2 separate regions of the Homo sapiens genome follow, and region 2 is linked to region 1. The links come from fine-mapping of genetic effects on gene expression. Tissue or cell type: whole blood. Region 1 holds a variant in brackets; the other region holds the start of a gene. All regions are shown on one strand. Distances are from middle to middle.

Region 1 (8,000 bases):
CTGTCACCTGCTTTTCAGCATCCAGACTAGTCGATTTTGGTATTGTCCTGCTCCCTTTACCATGTGGTTAGTGCCTTTACAAAAATTCCTTGGCTTTCCCCTCCATGAGGCTTTGCGAGGGAGCAAGAGTGGATGCCTGCATTGGCCAGCTGTCTGCAACTGAGGTCCCCGCGTCCCATGCAGTAGGCCAGGCCTGGCCACCACTTGTCCCTGGACTCTGGACAGCCAGGCTGGCTCTGCAGAGCAGCTCCAGGTCTCATGGCCCTGATGAAACCACGGCACCTCCTGGCCACCCTCACAGTAAACATTGATGGTTAAGGATACAGTGCTTTCAAGGGAGCCCAGGACTTGGCACTGACTTGTCGGTTTCCAGAGGCTTTTGGAAACAAAAACGAAGCCTTCAGCTTGTCAGCGCCAATGGCCCGTGTGGTTCATTATGTGGACCAGCCCCTGCCACGCTGCAGCCGAGCACTGCTCACCCTGGGGGCAGGCATGCAGAGGTCATGCTGTTGATTTCATTCCAGGCCTGCGCCACCTCCGGGAGCTCAAGGCTAGGGAGGATTGGCCAGAGGAAGCACCTGGTGCTGAACTAGGCTTGCCCTGCTGTGAACTTGCACTTGGAGCCCTGACGCTGCTGTTCTCCCCGAAGAACCCGACCGACCTCCGCGATCTCCGTCCCGCCCCCAGGGAGACACAGCAGTGACTCAGAGCTGGTCGCACACTGTGCCTCCCTCCTCACCGCCCATCGTAATGAATTATTTTGAAAATTAATTCCACCATCCTTTCAGATTCTGGATGGAAAGACTGAATCTTTGACTCAGAATTGTTTGCCGAAAAGAATGATGTGACTTTCTTAGTCATTTAGGATGATTTAAGGATATAGTATTCCTGGTCATTTAAGAATGTTCATTCATTGAAGCCGGAGCTGTCTCTGCCACAGGAGAGCCACATGGTCGGTAGTAACCAGGGCCTCTCCAAGCCCAGCTGTGAGTCACTGCCCAGTGAGTCCCGCGCTTCCTTTAAGGTGCTGGGAGCAAAGAGAGGGTGACTGAGGCAGACCCCAACCCCTGCTCTGCACCATCTGGGCCCTCGCCGTGTTTGAACCTGGCTGAATGAGTGGAGGGCGCTGTGTTCTCAATCAGCGCCTCCGAGGAGCCGTGGGGTTCCTTCGGCATTAGTTCACGGTTTTTGAGAGAGGCCTTAGTTACTGCAGTGAATTTCTTTCCTGTTGCAAAGACGCTTCCAGCCTCACTTTACTTTCTGTGGCCTGATGAGGACCATGGGTGATTTTGTGTACCCAAAGCGCTGGGGACTGCCCACCGTGTGGCCCAGTCACTGGGAAGGAGCCCCAGAGAGCCGGCTGTCTGACATGATGGCTCAGGGTGGTCATCCAGGTTGAAAACTGACCGTGTGATGTTTGATTTGGGCTTCATTTCGTGTGTAGGAGCACGGTTAGACTCACTGTTAAGGAAGCTGGATGCACTTCTCTAAAAGGCTGCACTTTCCGTGAGCACTTTTCGTGGTACAATCCACATGACCCACTTTCTCCCCTGGGGGACGTTGGTTCAGAGGTTGGTAGCACTTGGGGAGAGTATCTTAACACAGTTTCTTGACAGCAGCTCTGGAACTTAGTATTTCTGCCCCGAGTTTTGCCACACTGAGACTTTGAGTAGCTCCTGGTGGACTCAACCCTGTTCAACTCAGAGACGGGCCTCCTCTCACTGATGCAAAGCTTTAAGGCTTCTCTGACTGTTCTGAAACTCTTCGTATTCTTGTCAAGTCTAAAGAGACTGAAGAAAAGATTTAAATACTAATAAAAATCAGTAGATAATTTCTGTAGGTTCTGCTGGAGGAATACAAACTGTTTGGTGTTTTAAATTTAAGTGTAGAAATTGTAGAATGTGGAATTAGCACAGATCCTTCCTGGCTTTCTGTTTCACTTGATCATTTAGCCCAGACCACCCAGGATGTTTTCCAAAATGTTCCACAGGCGTGTCCCGCTGGATCCATTTGTCCTTGTCACTTGGAGAAAGGCCAGTCCCTGTGACGGGGCAGCCCTCTCTGTCCCTCGGTCAGCTCGTGTGAATCCTGGGACCTCTTCCGGTCGGCTCTGCCCGCTGTTCTGGGGTCGACTGCCACGACTTTTGATTCAAGAAGCTTCCTCCAGGCGGGAGCGGCTATTTTTCCTAAATGAGAATTGTTACATTGCAAATTGTTGAATAAAATATTTTGCGCTCCTTCAAGCACCTTCACCTGTGGTTCCCTTTGGTTTGCTGGAAGCGAGTGAGTGCAGGTGTCCGCAGGCCTCGGCGCTGTCCTGGACCGCACCCAGGTCCTCTCCGGGGACCTGCACCTGCCTCGCTGGGACCTGCCGGACTGCGGGGCTGCCGGGTTGGGAGGGGCGTGGGAGACCCGTCCGGGTCCGGTGCGGCGCAGTCCTCCGGCCGCCAGGGGCCGCTGTGGGCGGGGCCGGGGCGCGGGGCGGGGACCGGGCGCGGCCCCGCGGCGGCGGTTGCTGGGTCCCGGCCGGGCTGACTCCGCTTCTGGGCGGCCGGGCCTCCGCGAGTACCGGGTCGACTTCGGAGTCTGCGAGCCCAGCCAGGGGTGCCCGCTTCCCACCCCTCTCCCCGAGCGGCGTCCCCGTCGGGGTCGAACCTCCCCCGCGACAGGCGCCCAGCCGCCTGTTCCCCCAGGCCTTGCCTGCGGACCGCCCTGGGAACGGCGTCTGGGAGCCCCGAGGGGCTGGCGGGACTCGGGGCCCGGGCCATGCGGCAGCCGCCCCCGCCCCTCCGCGACCATCCCCGGCCCAAGCGGGAGCCGCAGCGGCGTTTCTGCTCCTCGCTGCGCCGGCGACCCCGGACCCGGCACCCGTGACCCCTCGCGCTGCCTGCGGCCTCGCGCCGAGGCCTGCCCCGGGAGAGACCGTCCATGCCGTCCAAGGCGGAGAATCTGCGGCCCTCCGAGCCGGCCCCGCAGCCGCCGGAAGGGAGGACGCTCCAAGGACAGCTTCCCGGCGCTCCGCCGGCCCAGCGCGCGGGGTCCCCACCCGATGCTCCGGGCTCCGAGAGCCCCGCGCTTGCCTGCAGCACTCCGGCCACGCCCAGCGGCGAGGACCCGCCAGCCCGAGCAGCACCCATCGCCCCGCGGCCCCCCGCCAGGCCTCGACTGGAGCGAGCCCTGTCCCTGGACGACAAGGGCTGGAGGAGGAGGCGTTTTCGAGGCAGCCAGGAGGACCTGGAAGCCCGGAATGGGACCAGTCCCTCCAGGGGCTCAGTGCAGAGCGAGGGCCCCGGGGCCCCCGCCCACAGCTGCTCCCCGCCCTGCCTGAGCACCTCCTTGCAGGAAATCCCCAAGTCCCGCGGGGTCCTGAGCAGTGAGAGAGGGAGCCCGTCCTCGGGGGGTAACCCTCTCTCTGGGGTGGCCAGCAGCTCCCCGAACCTCCCGCACAGAGACGCCGCCGTGGCGGGGAGCTCGCCCAGGCTGCCCAGCCTGCTGCCCCCGCGCCCACCGCCTGCCCTGAGCCTGGACATCGCCTCCGACTCCCTGAGGACAGCAAACAAGGTCGACTCGGATCTTGCAGACTACAAGCTCCGCGCGCAGCCGCTCCTGGTGCGGGCCCACAGCAGCCTGGGCCCCGGCCGGCCGCGGAGCCCCCTGGCCTGCGACGACTGTTCCCTTCGCTCGGCCAAATCCTCCTTCAGCCTCCTGGCGCCCATCCGCAGCAAGGACGTCCGCAGCAGGTAGGG[AGGGC/C]CTGGCGGGTGCAGCGCCCGCGCCGCCTTCGTTGTAGTGTTCAGGCTGCTGGAACCTCGTGAGACCGTTCCCATCAGCAGCGTTTAAGATGCCTAACCGGAAAGAACGAAGCGGGTCTCCCGCAGCCACCCCATCTCCCAGCCCCACCCCACAGCAGCGCCCTTCCCAGAACTTTTCCTGTGCGTTTCAGAACCATTCGTGGGCGTGACGTTGTGTTAAGGTAGACAGGATGGCATCCTGCATACAATTACGTATCTGGCGCTTTTTCTTGTTTAGTCTTGGGAAATGTCGTCAATGTATACGATCCGCCCCTTTGGTTGTTTTTGTTTGTTACTCTCTCTGTCGCCCAGGCTGGAGTGCAGCGGCGCGATCCCGGCTCACTGCAACCTCTGCCTCCTGGGTTCAAGGGATCCTCCTGCCGCAGCCTCCTGAGAATCTGGGATTACAGGCGCCCGCCACCACACCCAGCTAAATTTTGTATTTTTAGTAGGGGCGGGGTTTCGCCGTGTTGGCGAGGCTGGTCTCGAACTCCTGGCCTCGGCCTCCCAAAGTGCTGGGATTCCCGGCGTGGGCCACTGCGCCCGGCCTGCCCCCTTTGTTTTTTTCTGCGGCAAGAGGCCCCAGATGTGTTGAGGCTACTTTCGTTTAGCCACTTGCTCATGAGGAACATTTTGGTGGGCTCCAGCTGTTGCTGGAAGGAACTGCAGCTGAACCCATGACCTCTCCCAAGCCTGGTCTTGTCTTGGGGTCTCAGTCTGGGGGCCTGTCCTGAGATGCTCCCACTATGACTTGGCAGAGTCACCTGCACCCTTCTTTTCCTCCCCCCACCCCACTGCCATGGTGCCCAAGTCTTGTCTGTCAGCCGCGGCGGGAGGCAGGACAGGTGTGAGAAGGGAGAGGTGTGAGGTGGTTTCTGTGTTGGTGTCCTGGGGCCGTTGTAACTCATGACCACAGACTGGGAGGCTTGCAACAGCAGAGCTGGACTCTCTCCCAGTTCTAGAGGCCAGAAGTCTAAAATCAAGGTGTGGCCACGCAGCCTCTCTCCAGAGGCTCAGGGGAGGGTCCTCCCGCTGCCTCCCGCTCCTGGGGCCCCACTTGTTCCTTGGCTTGTGGCCGCATGCTCCAGTCTCTGCCTCTGTCTTTATGTGGCCTCTTCCCTGTCTCTCTGTGTTCCCCTCTCTTTTTATAAGGACACCAGTCATTGAATTTACTGCCTACCCTAAATCCAGGGTGGTCTTATCTCGAGATCCTTAATTAAACACGTTTGCAAAGACCCCGTTTCCGAATAAGGTCCCATTCCAAGGTTCTGGGGCTCTGGGAGTGGACATGGCTTTGGGGATCACTGTTCAGCTCACCACAGTCCCCGAAGGTAGCCTCACTTCCCCGCGTCTGTGGTGCACCAGCAGGCAGGTGGGCTCAGGCCTGGAGTGAGGGCCCGTGCCTGGCGCCCCCACCATACTCTCCTCCTGTCATGGATGGAGCAGGTGCGATCACATCCAGGGCAAGACTGCTGCTTTTGTTAAAATAATTCACTGCAGGGCTTCTCGTAAAGAGTGAGATTTCTTAGTGCATCTAAAGCATCACATTTTAAAATTAGATCCGGTTGACGTAGATACACCTGTTAGAGAAAAGGACAGTCGTGTCTCAAATTTGGACCCTCAAGTCATTGTTTTCAAACAACCAGGAAACGAGGGTTGACGTGGATCCTTTAACCCAGTTCTGCTGCCTAACAGCTTCCCATTTCCAGACCTCCGGTCTGTTCTAGAATAGGAGTCGGCGCACTCTTTCTGTCAAGGGGGAGACACAGACAGTGGGGACCAAAGGGCGTCTGTGTGCCAGTGAGTCTATTAGGGACATACATTGGAACCTCGCTCTTTTTTCTTTCTCTGCCGTTCCACACAGTAAAACCCATTCTGAGTTTGCGGGCCGCGTGTGCACGGGCTGGGTCCGCCCTGTTTGAGAATGGCTGCTGGCTTTTGCCAGTGCCTTGGGGCTGCCAGGGCGGGTTAGGGGGCCTTTCCCCACCCGTTCCTTTTGCTCGGAGAGCTGGCCCAGGCTGTGGCAGCCAGCCTGAGCGTCCTCATGCAGAAGCTGTGCAGTGTCCTGGCCCTGGATGGGGGTCCGAGGCAGCTCTGCCCCTGCCCGTGTCTAGACACAGGAATGGCTGTGAGGGCCGCCCCTGGCCTGCTGTTACTAACCATGCTCTGGACAGAGCTGGGCAGACTGACCACGTGGCTGCTGGTGTGGACATGATGGGCGCTGCCGGCAAAGGGGCCGTGGGCCTCCAGCCTGGTGACCGAGGAGCCCCTGCTGGGCCCGGGATCACTTGACAGGGGTGCCCACAGGAACGCTCTCTGTCCCGAATGACCACTGTGTGAACACAGCTGTCCCGACCGGGATTGTCGACAGTTTTAGGGGTGAGGTAGCGAGGTTCCTCCCTGCTGACATGATTTAACGTGTCCAGTGAAGCTTGGTGAGCCGCAGCCAGGGTTGAAGAAGTTCTCGCGGGAGGTCACAGGAATCCGGCACTATGCTCTCGTGTCCCCTTGCGGAAGGGAACCATGTCAGAAGACGGCGTATCCAGAAGGAGCCGCACAAGTGTTACTTAGAGAGGGAGCGGGGAGGACGGCTGGCAAGCCTAGCCCACGGCGTTTCTGTATAGTCGGCGAGCTGAGAACGGGTTTTACATTTCCAAATGGTTGGAAAAAGTCAAAACCATTCTAATGATGTTTCATAGTACAAGAAAATTGTAAAATTCAGATTTCAGTGTCTGTAAATCAAGCGTCTCGGGCACACGGCTGCACCCCTTGTGTCCACATCCCCTGGTGGCTCTTGCACCACCGTAGCAGAGCCCACGGCGACAGACACTGGATGTCCCACGGAGCGGCAGGCGTGTGCGGTTGCCTCTTGACGGGTTACCAGCCCTCGTGGCAGAAGGTGCTGAGTGTGGGGAGGGGCAGGGACGTTGCTGTGCCACACGGTGTTTAACCATCTGTGTGCACCGCCGTATTAAAATCTGAAAGCATCAGCCTGGACAACGTGGCGAGACCCTGTTTCTACAAAAATAAAAAATAAATAAATAACTAGCCGGGCGTGGTGGCACTGCACCTGGAGTCCCAGCTACTCGGGAGGCTGAGGCAGGAGGATCACTTGAGCCCGGGAGGTAGAGGCTGCAGGGAGCTGTGTTAGTGCCACTGCACTCCAGCCTGGGCACGGAGTGAGACCCTGTCCCCACTAGAAACCAAAACAAGCAAACCCAAAAGTGCGTCAAAGCCACGGGGTGTCGAGGAGATGGACGCGTTTCCGTGTGGCTCGTGTGGTCTCTGTATCTTAGACCGTCCTGCCTGGTGCTGGGGCCAAAGGAGAAAGGAGGAGGACCAGCCCCTCCCCGAACAGCACCCTGTGCCCACTGCCTTGGCTTATAGTTTGGGAGCTCCTCTCTGTGGCTTTTCCAGGATCCCACCACCAAAAAGCCCAAACCGTCACCCTCTCATGCCTCTTCCCGGGAGGTAGGGAGGGGGTGTGAACCCGCTCTGGGTGTTTGTGCAACCAGGTCAGGCCTTGTGTTCCTGGAGAGCAGACAGCAGTGCCGCGGGGGCCAGGAGAGTCCTTGCTTGGGGCTGGGGGCAGCTCCTGACATTCCATGGGTTTTGCTATTGTCCCTGGGGACCTGGCCCAGACCCCCAGGGATGTGTCCTGTGCCTGGCCCTGAGCTTGGGGTCCTCCCGTCACAGGAGTTACCTGGAGGGCAGCCTCCTGGCCAGCGGGGCCCTGTTGGGGGCGGATGAGCTGGCCCGCTACTTCCCAGACCGGAACGTGGCACTCTTCGTGGCCACCTGGAACATGCAGGGCCAGAAGGTGAGTGGCTGTGGGTGGTGCTGGGCGGGGAAGGGTGGGGTGGTGCTGGACAAAGGCGGGTGAGGGGGACGGGGCAGCTCTGTGCCTCATCCTGGGGCCAGGAGGGCAGAGCCCCGAGGTGCACCCCACTGCTAACCGCAGTACAGGAGGGTGAGAGTGGGTAAGGACCCCCATCCCCCAGAGCTCCCACCTGCACCTCCCTGGCCACGTGGCTGCAGAAAGTAGGGGAGGGGGTTGGGGCAACGGGCCTGGCCGAGAATCACCTGCTCAAGGTGAGCGGGAGGGCGGCCAGCGGGGCACGCGTAGGGGTGGCTCAGGGACAGGGTGGGCAGCACGGGCTGGGGTCATGGTGACGGGAGGGTCATACAGGGGTGGTCGTTGGACAGACTCGT
Region 2 (8,000 bases), 110 kb after region 1:
GTGCCTCCTCTGCTCCACCCGACCCCACCTGGCCCCCTCCCCAGCCTCCCTGGCACCAGCCCACGGTGCCAGCATGGGGCAGCGGGGGGGGGGGGCTCAGAGTCCTCACCATGCCAGCCCCACGTCTGCCGGGCCCTCTGTGCTCTCCCTCACCTGACTGGCCAAGGTGCGAACAGGGCCCCAGGTCTGACGGGGTCAGGGCCACGTGGGGCCTGGGGGATGCCGCTCCCCAGGTCGTGGGGCTTGGGAGGCATGGACCACGTTCCCCTAGCCTGGCTCCTTTCCTCAAACTTCCCAAGCCCCCGGCGTCCTTCTCAGCTGGGCTCCCAGCTTCTCCAGCCACCTGTGGCCCATGAGGAGGCTGGAACCTGACAGAGGCGGGGGACTGGGGGGGCAGGTCTTATCCCTGAGACGGCCACGGGGTCTGAGCAGAGGCAGGAATCCAAGGACAGGTGGGGGTCTTCAGGCCCTGGGCTCTCTCCTCCTTACCTTGAGGCCTTGTGGGCTCAGGGGTCCTACTCAGGCCAGACCATTTGTCCACCTTCAGGACAGCTTGGCCAAAGGCGGGGCAGGACCTAGAATGCCTCTCCCTTGCCCAGTCCTCGTCAACAGACTGAACCCTCAGACCCTCCGTGGTGGCTGGGGTGCCATCACCAAGGCCAGTTCCCAAGCCAGCACTGCAACTCCTACTACCTCCGGCCACCCGAAAGCCGTGTCCCTCAGTCCCAGCCCTGCTAACAGAATTGGCACCTGCCCCTCCCCAAGGCCGTCACCTACATGCTGGCCCCTGAGCAGATGCTGAAGAGACTCTGCTCACAGCTGGCTCTATCTGCCCCATCCCCCAGCCAGACACCCCCAGGGAAAACCACACCGACTCCCCTTCAGTGGCCAGGGGAGGGGAGAGAGTGAGGCGCAGGACCGGGCTGGGAGCACAGCGGGAGCTGGAATCACTGGAGAGGGGACTGAAGGTCACCCAGCTGTAGGAAGCACCTGGGGTCAGGCTTGCCAGGAATTCCTAGGGCCCGTCGCTGCCCAGCGACCCACCAGGGATGGTGCCCAGGACGGGGACAGGGGAGGGAGGAAGGATGGAGTGAAGGTAGGGGGTAGCATGGCCATGTGGCCAGAGAGGTTGCGGGGGGCCCAGTCCACACCTGAGGACGTCCTGTCTGGGAGCTGGTGACTGCTGCTTGGAGGGCATCTCTAACAGGGTCACCCCAAGGTGGGTGGCTCTGCTGCCCCTTCCCGGCCCCAGCCCCGGGGAGCACTCAGCTGGCCTTAAAGCAGGTGGGAGGCCAGGAGACGACCACCCAGGGTTTCCCCACTTTCCGGGGCCTTCTCAGCCACTGGCCTGTCCCCGCCAGGCCTCTTCACCCCAAAGCCCTGCTCTGGGCCAGGGAGCCCCTGGCAAGTGGGCCAGAATTCTGAGCATTAACTGTAGCACCCAGGGCCCTGTCCCCACCGACCCAGCACCCAGGGCCCATCCCCACTGACCCAGAACCCAAGGGCCCGTCCCCACCGACCCAGCACCCAGGGGCCCGTCCCCACCGACCCAGCACCCAGGGCCCCGTCCCCACCGACCCAGCACCCAGGGGCCCGTCCCCACCGACCCAGCACCCAGGGCCCCGTCCCCACCGACCCAGAACCCAGGGGCCCGTCCCCACCGACCCAGCACCCAGGGCCCCTCAGGGTACCCAGTGGGCTCATGGGCACATTCATGGGCCTCGCTGTCAGTGTGTTTTCCAGGCACAGTTCCCCATTTTAAAAGCTGAAACTCCTCTCTCCAGGAAGGAATGTCAGTGTGGGAAGGCAGTAGACGGGGCAGAGGAGACCTTGGGCCAACCTGGAGCCCCATCCACATTGAGGGACCCCAGTACAGCCACGTGAGGAGTGCCCACACGGATTCCGCCCACCTCCAGGGCATCCACATGCCCACCGCCCACGCCAGCAGGTGGGCCGCCCCCAGCACTCGGGTTTCAGGAGACAGGAGACTTTTCCGTGTCTTGCTCTCCAGCCCCAGCATGACAGCAAAGGGCCCTCCCGTCTGGCCCGCAGCTTCCACTGGCCCAGAACACGTCTAGGCATCCATGCTCTGAAGCCAGCTCCGACCAGGAACCGCCTGCCCAAACCGGGCTGTGGCTACACGGTGGGGTGCAGACTCCCGGGGGGACCTCGTCACAGGCCCTGCTGGAGGGCTTGGCGCGCTTCCCCCAAGTCTGGGCCTGACTCCACCCTGGAGCTCAACTGGACTCCCTGCTTAGGGGGATGCAAGGCTGGGTCTGGGGTCTCTCTGAGTGGTCCCCCTGAGCACTGCCCCTGCCAGGGGCTGGCTCCTGCCTGGCGTGTCCCCAGGGGACCCCAGGCTTCTAGCTGTAGCCTGGAGAATGCCCAACTCTATGGTCAGCTGTGCAGGCCTCACCCAAGGCTAAGGTCTTGGACACCCGTCTCTCACAGCTCCACACACACACTCTCTCACAGCTCCACACACTCACACTCAAACTCACTCCAGCCAGGGCTGCTATCCATCCCCCTCACAGCACGGCCGCCCTGGAGCACATGCGGCCCTGCACAGCCGATCAGATCAGCGGAGGAAACCCTTGAAAATCCTTTAGGGCAGGCCCCTGGCAGCAGCTGCCAGCAAAATCACCCTCACGCCCCTCCCCTGCGTGGGGCCCAGGAGCCAGGCTAGGGGCTCAGCGCTCCATCCAGGACGGCACAATGGGGCTGTGTCTGGGACCAAAGCAGAGAGCAGACCGGAGGCAGCAAGGCCTCTGTCCGCCGTGCCGCCACCAGTACCTCATTTCGGGTGCCCCAGGCAGAGGCTTGCTGCTTGGCTGGGGCCAGAGAATCCTTGGGGGCCAGGCTAGGCGCCCCCCGGGATCAGCTGCTGGGACCCCTATCAGGGAGGTCACCAGGTTTTAGGGATGTCCAGAGGACAATAGTGTCCCTCGCTCTGGGGAGCCAGGCCTGCCTCTGACGGCTGCCACCCATTCGCAAGCCCCTGCCTGGACCTCACGCTCGTGTGGCTCTGCCTGAGGCCTGGTACCACCCAGCCTTGCTTGGGGCTCCAGGCACCTGCCCGGCTGGGCCCAGGGCAGCCCCTGGGGGGACATTGGGAGTCACCAGGCAGGCATGCCACCTGGGGCAGGGCCACCCTGTCATCCCCAAAGGCGTGGGGCACAGAGCCCAGTCACTGGGATCACCCAGGAATGTGCCCGGAGAGTAGATGCCTTTTCAGGCAGGTACACACCCACCTGGCTGGCTCCCTTCCAACCCAGCTGGATCCCACTGGGCTCGTGGAGGGCTGGTGAGGGGCAGAGCCCCATCCAGAGCAGCCAGGTCTCTTTGGCCATGATGCCCCTGAGTGCCCCGGGCATGGCAGGGCCAGGCTTGGGAGGGAAGCACCCCACGGTGCCCCTGCCAGGTGCCAGGGGAGTGAGGCTGGAGAAGCTGCCCACCCCGCCTCCAGCCCCCCGGCCCCCCACCCCCTTCCCCTTGGCTTGGGGGAAAGAGGGCTTCAGGGGACGCCCACGCGGGCACACGCCGGGCTGGGCTCGGCCTGGAGGGAGGGGCGCGTCCTCAGCCACGCTGCGCGCCCGCGAGAGCTGCCTTTGTTCCCAACTGCAGCCTCCCCCGCGTCCCGACCCGGCCCGGTCCGGTCCCAGCCCCGGCCCCGGCCCCGGCCCCGGCCCGTCCTACCTGGAGTAGAGGCGCCTGGCGGCCGGGCCCGGGAGCTCGTCGGCCGCGGGCGGGGCCGGGCCCGCCATGGGTCGGGGACGCGGGAGCGGGAGCCGGGAGCGCCCCCCGCGCCGTGGCCGTCCGCCCCCTGCCCGCCCTGCTGTCCTCCCTGCTGTCCGCCCTGCTGTCCGCCTGTCCGTCCGCGCCTCGTTCGCCCGTCCTCCCCCGGGGAGGCGCCGAGGAAGTGATGTGCGCGGGGCGCCGCCGCCCCTCCCGCCGCCGTGGCCGTGATGTCACCGCCGCCCGCGCGGGGAGGGGGCGCGGACCGGGCGGCCACCGCCGCGTGCCTCCCTCTGCGGGGGGCGGGGCGGACGCGGGGGGAGGGGCGCCGTGAGGCGGGCAGTCCCCGGGGAGGGGGGAGGGGGGAGGGGGTGTGGGCCCCAGCCCACCCCACCCCAGGGAATGCAGGGGAGAGGGCCTGGGCCTGGCCTTGCTGCTGGTCCCCTGGGGACTTCTGAGGGCCCGCGGGGGTCCCTGGGTCACAGTGCAGCCACACTGGCCTCTGGGCTCCTTTCATCCACAGGCCGCCTGGTGAGCCCCGCAGCCTCACCCACGTGGGGAGGGGCTGCTGAGGCCTCCTTGCCTTTCTTGGTGGGCGCCCTACGCCTCGGGGGTCCTACCCTCCTCTTCTGTGCAGCCCCAACGTGGCTTTGCCCCCTTCTCCAAACTTCTGCCTTGGGCCATGGGGCGCAGGCCGTGGGGATGCTGTCTGCCTGCTTTAGAGAAACCTGGGGCACCGATGACAAATACAGGCTCTGCTTGGCCTGTGGGACGGTTGGTAAGCCCCCCACCTCTGAGACCCTGGGTGGCCACATTCCCCTCCCAAGCTCCCCCGGAATGGGGATGCAGCCTGCCCCTTCCTTCCTCCTGGGCACTGTGCAGGCTTAGGGAGGATGCAGGTGGCACAGTAGGCTGTGCCCACCCGGGGTCCCGGGACCCCAGCCCCTACCGCCTCCTCCTCCTCCTCTGAATTCTTGGAGCCCTGTGGGCCTATGTGGTGTGACGTGGCTTCCCCTCCACCCACCCTCAGCTCCCGATGGCTTGGGGGGTTCTCCGCAGCCAGCGAGGCCCACAGCCGGCCTCCCCGGGTTCTGTCCTGCCCCCGACAGCATCCTGGGCCTTCCGGTGGTGTCAGGAGACTCCAGGCCCTTGAAAGGCAGCTGCGACCCCGGGTATGACTCGGAGAAGTCCAGGAGCAGGAAATGGGCTGCATTCCTTCGGGGCCCCTCCGTGCACCCCAGCCCCTCCCTGGGAGAGCTGCCCTGAGGTCAGGAAAGTGCCGTCCTGGCAAGACCCTCAGCAGCTGCCGCCCACAGGACAGTCAGCGTTTTCAAGCATGGGAAGGAAAATAAACACGAGGTTAAAAAGGGGTCTGTTGGCCCCGGGCTGGTTTGTTTTTCCTGTGTAAGGGAGGCAACGGGAATGAGAACCATCTGTGCCCTGAGCGCAGCGCAAGCTGCCTGCTGGGCCCACGTGCCCTCCCCCAAAGACCACAGAAGCCAGGCAGAGCCTTGCTCCCTTCCAGCCGGGGCCGTGGCTGCTGGCCGGCAGGGACAGTGGTGTTGGCTGGGGCACCACCCTCCTTTGCCACAGCCCTGGGCCTGGCTGCGGGCAGAGAACAGGCCTTCGATTGAAGCTCCAACCTTCCGGGCCACCTCCTTTGGGCTTCGGGCACCTGAGCCAGCATCCCATTGTAAGGGCAGGGGCTGCTGGGGGCCCTGCCTGTGCCAGGCCTCAGCTCAGCCCTCTTTCCCCAGGCGCTGCTGCCATCAGGAGGCCCACAGAGGGTCCACACCAACACTGTGAGCCCCTTGTGGGTCCCCTGGGTTAGTGGTGGGAGGCTGGTGAAGAGAAGTGGGGACAAAAGACATTGCACAAATGGTGGAGGGAGGGAGAGATTTGCAGCCTCGTAGCTGTCATTGCTGGGGGAGCTTCTCCTGGTCTCCTTCCTTGATGCAGAGAGCTGGGAGCTTGTGTCCCTGGGCCGGGAGAGCCCCAACATTATATCAGAACTTGTGGGGAAACCTGCACCCCCGAGGGCTCTGGCTTTGTTAGGCCGAGCTGGGCTATGAGGCTGTGTGACCTGGCACAAGTTGCTTTCCCTCTCTGAGCCTCGGTTCTGTCACCTGAGGGCTGCCCGTCCCGCAAGGTGTGGAGGGTCACTGAGGCGTGGGGTTTCTGCGGTGCTTGTCCATGTGCCTGGCACACAGTGGGGTTTGTGCAGTGCTTGTCCATGTGCCTAGTGGCTCACAGTGGGGTTTGTGCGGTGCTTGTCCGTGTGCCTGGCACACGGTGGGGTTTGTGTGGTGCGTGTCCATGTGCCTGGCACACAGCGAGAGCTGCTGGGGTCATGTTGCTCTCACACTCGTGCCTGCCCCTGCTGGGCCCCTGCAGTGGGTCCTGGCTGGATTGGGGGTACATCCCCACCACACTGCACAGAGGGGCGTCTCCTCCTATCCAGGGACCTGATTCTCCTGTCGAGAAAACCTATGAAGGGGACCCAGAGATGGAGTGTGACAAGGCCAGGTGACAGGCCTGACATGTGGTGTCCACATCCAGAAGGGAGACCCTGGAGGGATGACCCTCCACTGCCACCCCCTCCCATCAGGCTCTGGACACCCTCGAGCCTCCCACCATCCACCTTACCAGATCCCCCCAAGAGTCCGGGAAGCTCACTCCCCCAGGGGACCAGGAGCACAGCCCCTTCCATTCCTAACGGGCCTGACTCCCAAAGGGGGGTGAGGAAAGAAAAAGCCATTTCACATCGACTTATTCTTCTGGCCCCAGGCAGCAGCACAGGGCGCAGGGTGGGCCTCTGCAGACACGATGGCTCCGTGGTCAGGGAGGGGCCACCTCCCATGTGCCTGGGGAGGGGCCCTCCCAAGCCCCTGCGTGGCAGCGCCAAGGGGTTGGAGTCAGCCCCAGCACACACAGGGCCCTGCTCACTGGTGGCCATTGTCAGCGCCACCTCCACCTTCAGGAGCCTGCCACGTGCCTGCCCTCGGTCACTTAGCCCTCCCTGGCACGCACCACTTTGTCCACACACCCTGTGTGTAAGTGGTGACAGCGGTGACAGCTCAGGCGTCACCTGATCGGGCCGACTCTAAGCCTTAGTCCTTCCTTGTCCTGTTGCGCCGGACAAGCCTCTGGGAGGCGACGGTGGGACAGCCACAGGGTTCTTGGCTCAGCCCCCAGGAGTGGGGAGCTGGGGCTCTGGACGGAGGTGGGCACTCGAGGCTGGTGTGGCCTCCTGGGTGAGGGCCAGGCTCGGGAGAGGCAGCCAGGCGGCCCCAAGCCACCCCAGGAACAAAGCACCAGCACACACCTCCACTGGTTTGCTAGGGCTGGGAGAAGTTGGAGTGTTTCTGTGGTGGCTGTGGCAGCCCACGGCCCCAAGACCCTGGCTTCCTTCTGCTCCCACCTTTTCAGGCCCCTTCCCCAACAAGCAGCTACTGTAGGACCCAGTGGGGGCTAGGGCACCAGCAGCTGCCATTACCCATGCTGGGTCCTGATGGTTCCTGACCAGCCTCAACCGTGGATTCCAAGCTGGGGAAGGAAGAAGCAGGCCGGGAGTGGGGAGGGAGACAGTGAAGGACACCCAAACACACACACACACACACACACACACACACACACACACACACACACAGAAGGAACAGTTTCAGCTTTGTTTCCCAGTAATCTCACTTAAAAAGAACACTTGGGTTTACCATGTTCACATAATCTCGTTGCTCTGAGAATGAACTTATTCTTCCTCCCAGCTTGGCCATGTGTTCCTCCCCATTGCCCAAGTCCCCTCATGACATCATCTCCCACTGCCATGTCCTTTCCTTGGGGACCTCCAAGTCCCTGGAGTTTGGGGACTGCAGGGTGGGTGGAGGGGCCCACAAGCTCTGCAGGGAGCCAGAAGGAAACGGTCTGTCCCACCCCAGGGCTGAGCACCTCGCTGGGAGATGATACCCACACCTGGAAATAGCTCAAGGGCCGCGTGAGGCCGCACGACACCCACGCCAGTATGAGACACCTGGCCATGCGGCATTCCTGGCCGACTGCTGGCAGCTGCAGACTTTGTCAGCCAGGTGATGTCCCCGGGATCTCTGGGCAGGCAGGGCACACAGGAGGCAGCTCACGCTCACTCATCATGGCGAGGCAGGTCGTGTGGAACTTCCTTGGTCTTCCTCATCTGCGCCCCACCCAGCCTGGCAGATGGTGATGCTGTGAGTGCCAGGGAAACACACACACGCACACACACACACATGCACACA

The links. PIP is the estimated chance that this variant, and not a neighbour inherited with it, causes the effect.
Region 2: it holds the start of GPSM1, and the variant in region 1 is fine-mapped to the expression of GPSM1 in whole blood (INTERVAL, PIP 0.95).

The regions. Positions count from the first base shown.
Region 1 is chr9:136,434,348-136,442,347 of GRCh38, reverse strand. It overlaps INPP5E (inositol polyphosphate-5-phosphatase E), which reads left to right and starts at 2,503. Exons shown (of 10, transcript NM_019892.6): 1 at 2,503-3,740; 2 at 7,485-7,608. The coding sequence starts at 2,929. SEC16A (SEC16 homolog A, endoplasmic reticulum export factor) reads left to right here. Exons shown (of 32, transcript NM_014866.2): 32 at 525-2,243. The coding sequence ends at 593. RefSeq lists silencers at 2,345-2,544, 2,595-2,774, 2,835-3,324 and enhancers at 2,397-3,030, 3,031-3,665, 3,615-3,724, 3,666-4,299, 5,836-6,344. The variant AGGGC/C (reference allele first, on the strand shown) is at 3,747.
Region 2 is chr9:136,323,460-136,331,459 of GRCh38, reverse strand. It overlaps GPSM1 (G protein signaling modulator 1), which reads right to left and starts at 3,921. Exons shown (of 14, transcript NM_001145638.3): 1 at 3,697-3,921. The coding sequence starts at 3,764. It overlaps DKFZP434A062 (a long non-coding RNA gene), which reads left to right and starts at 4,137. Exons shown (of 1, transcript NR_026964.3): 1 at 4,137-8,000. RefSeq lists enhancers at 2,701-3,229, 3,230-3,759, 6,289-6,917, 6,918-7,544 and a silencer at 4,793-5,087.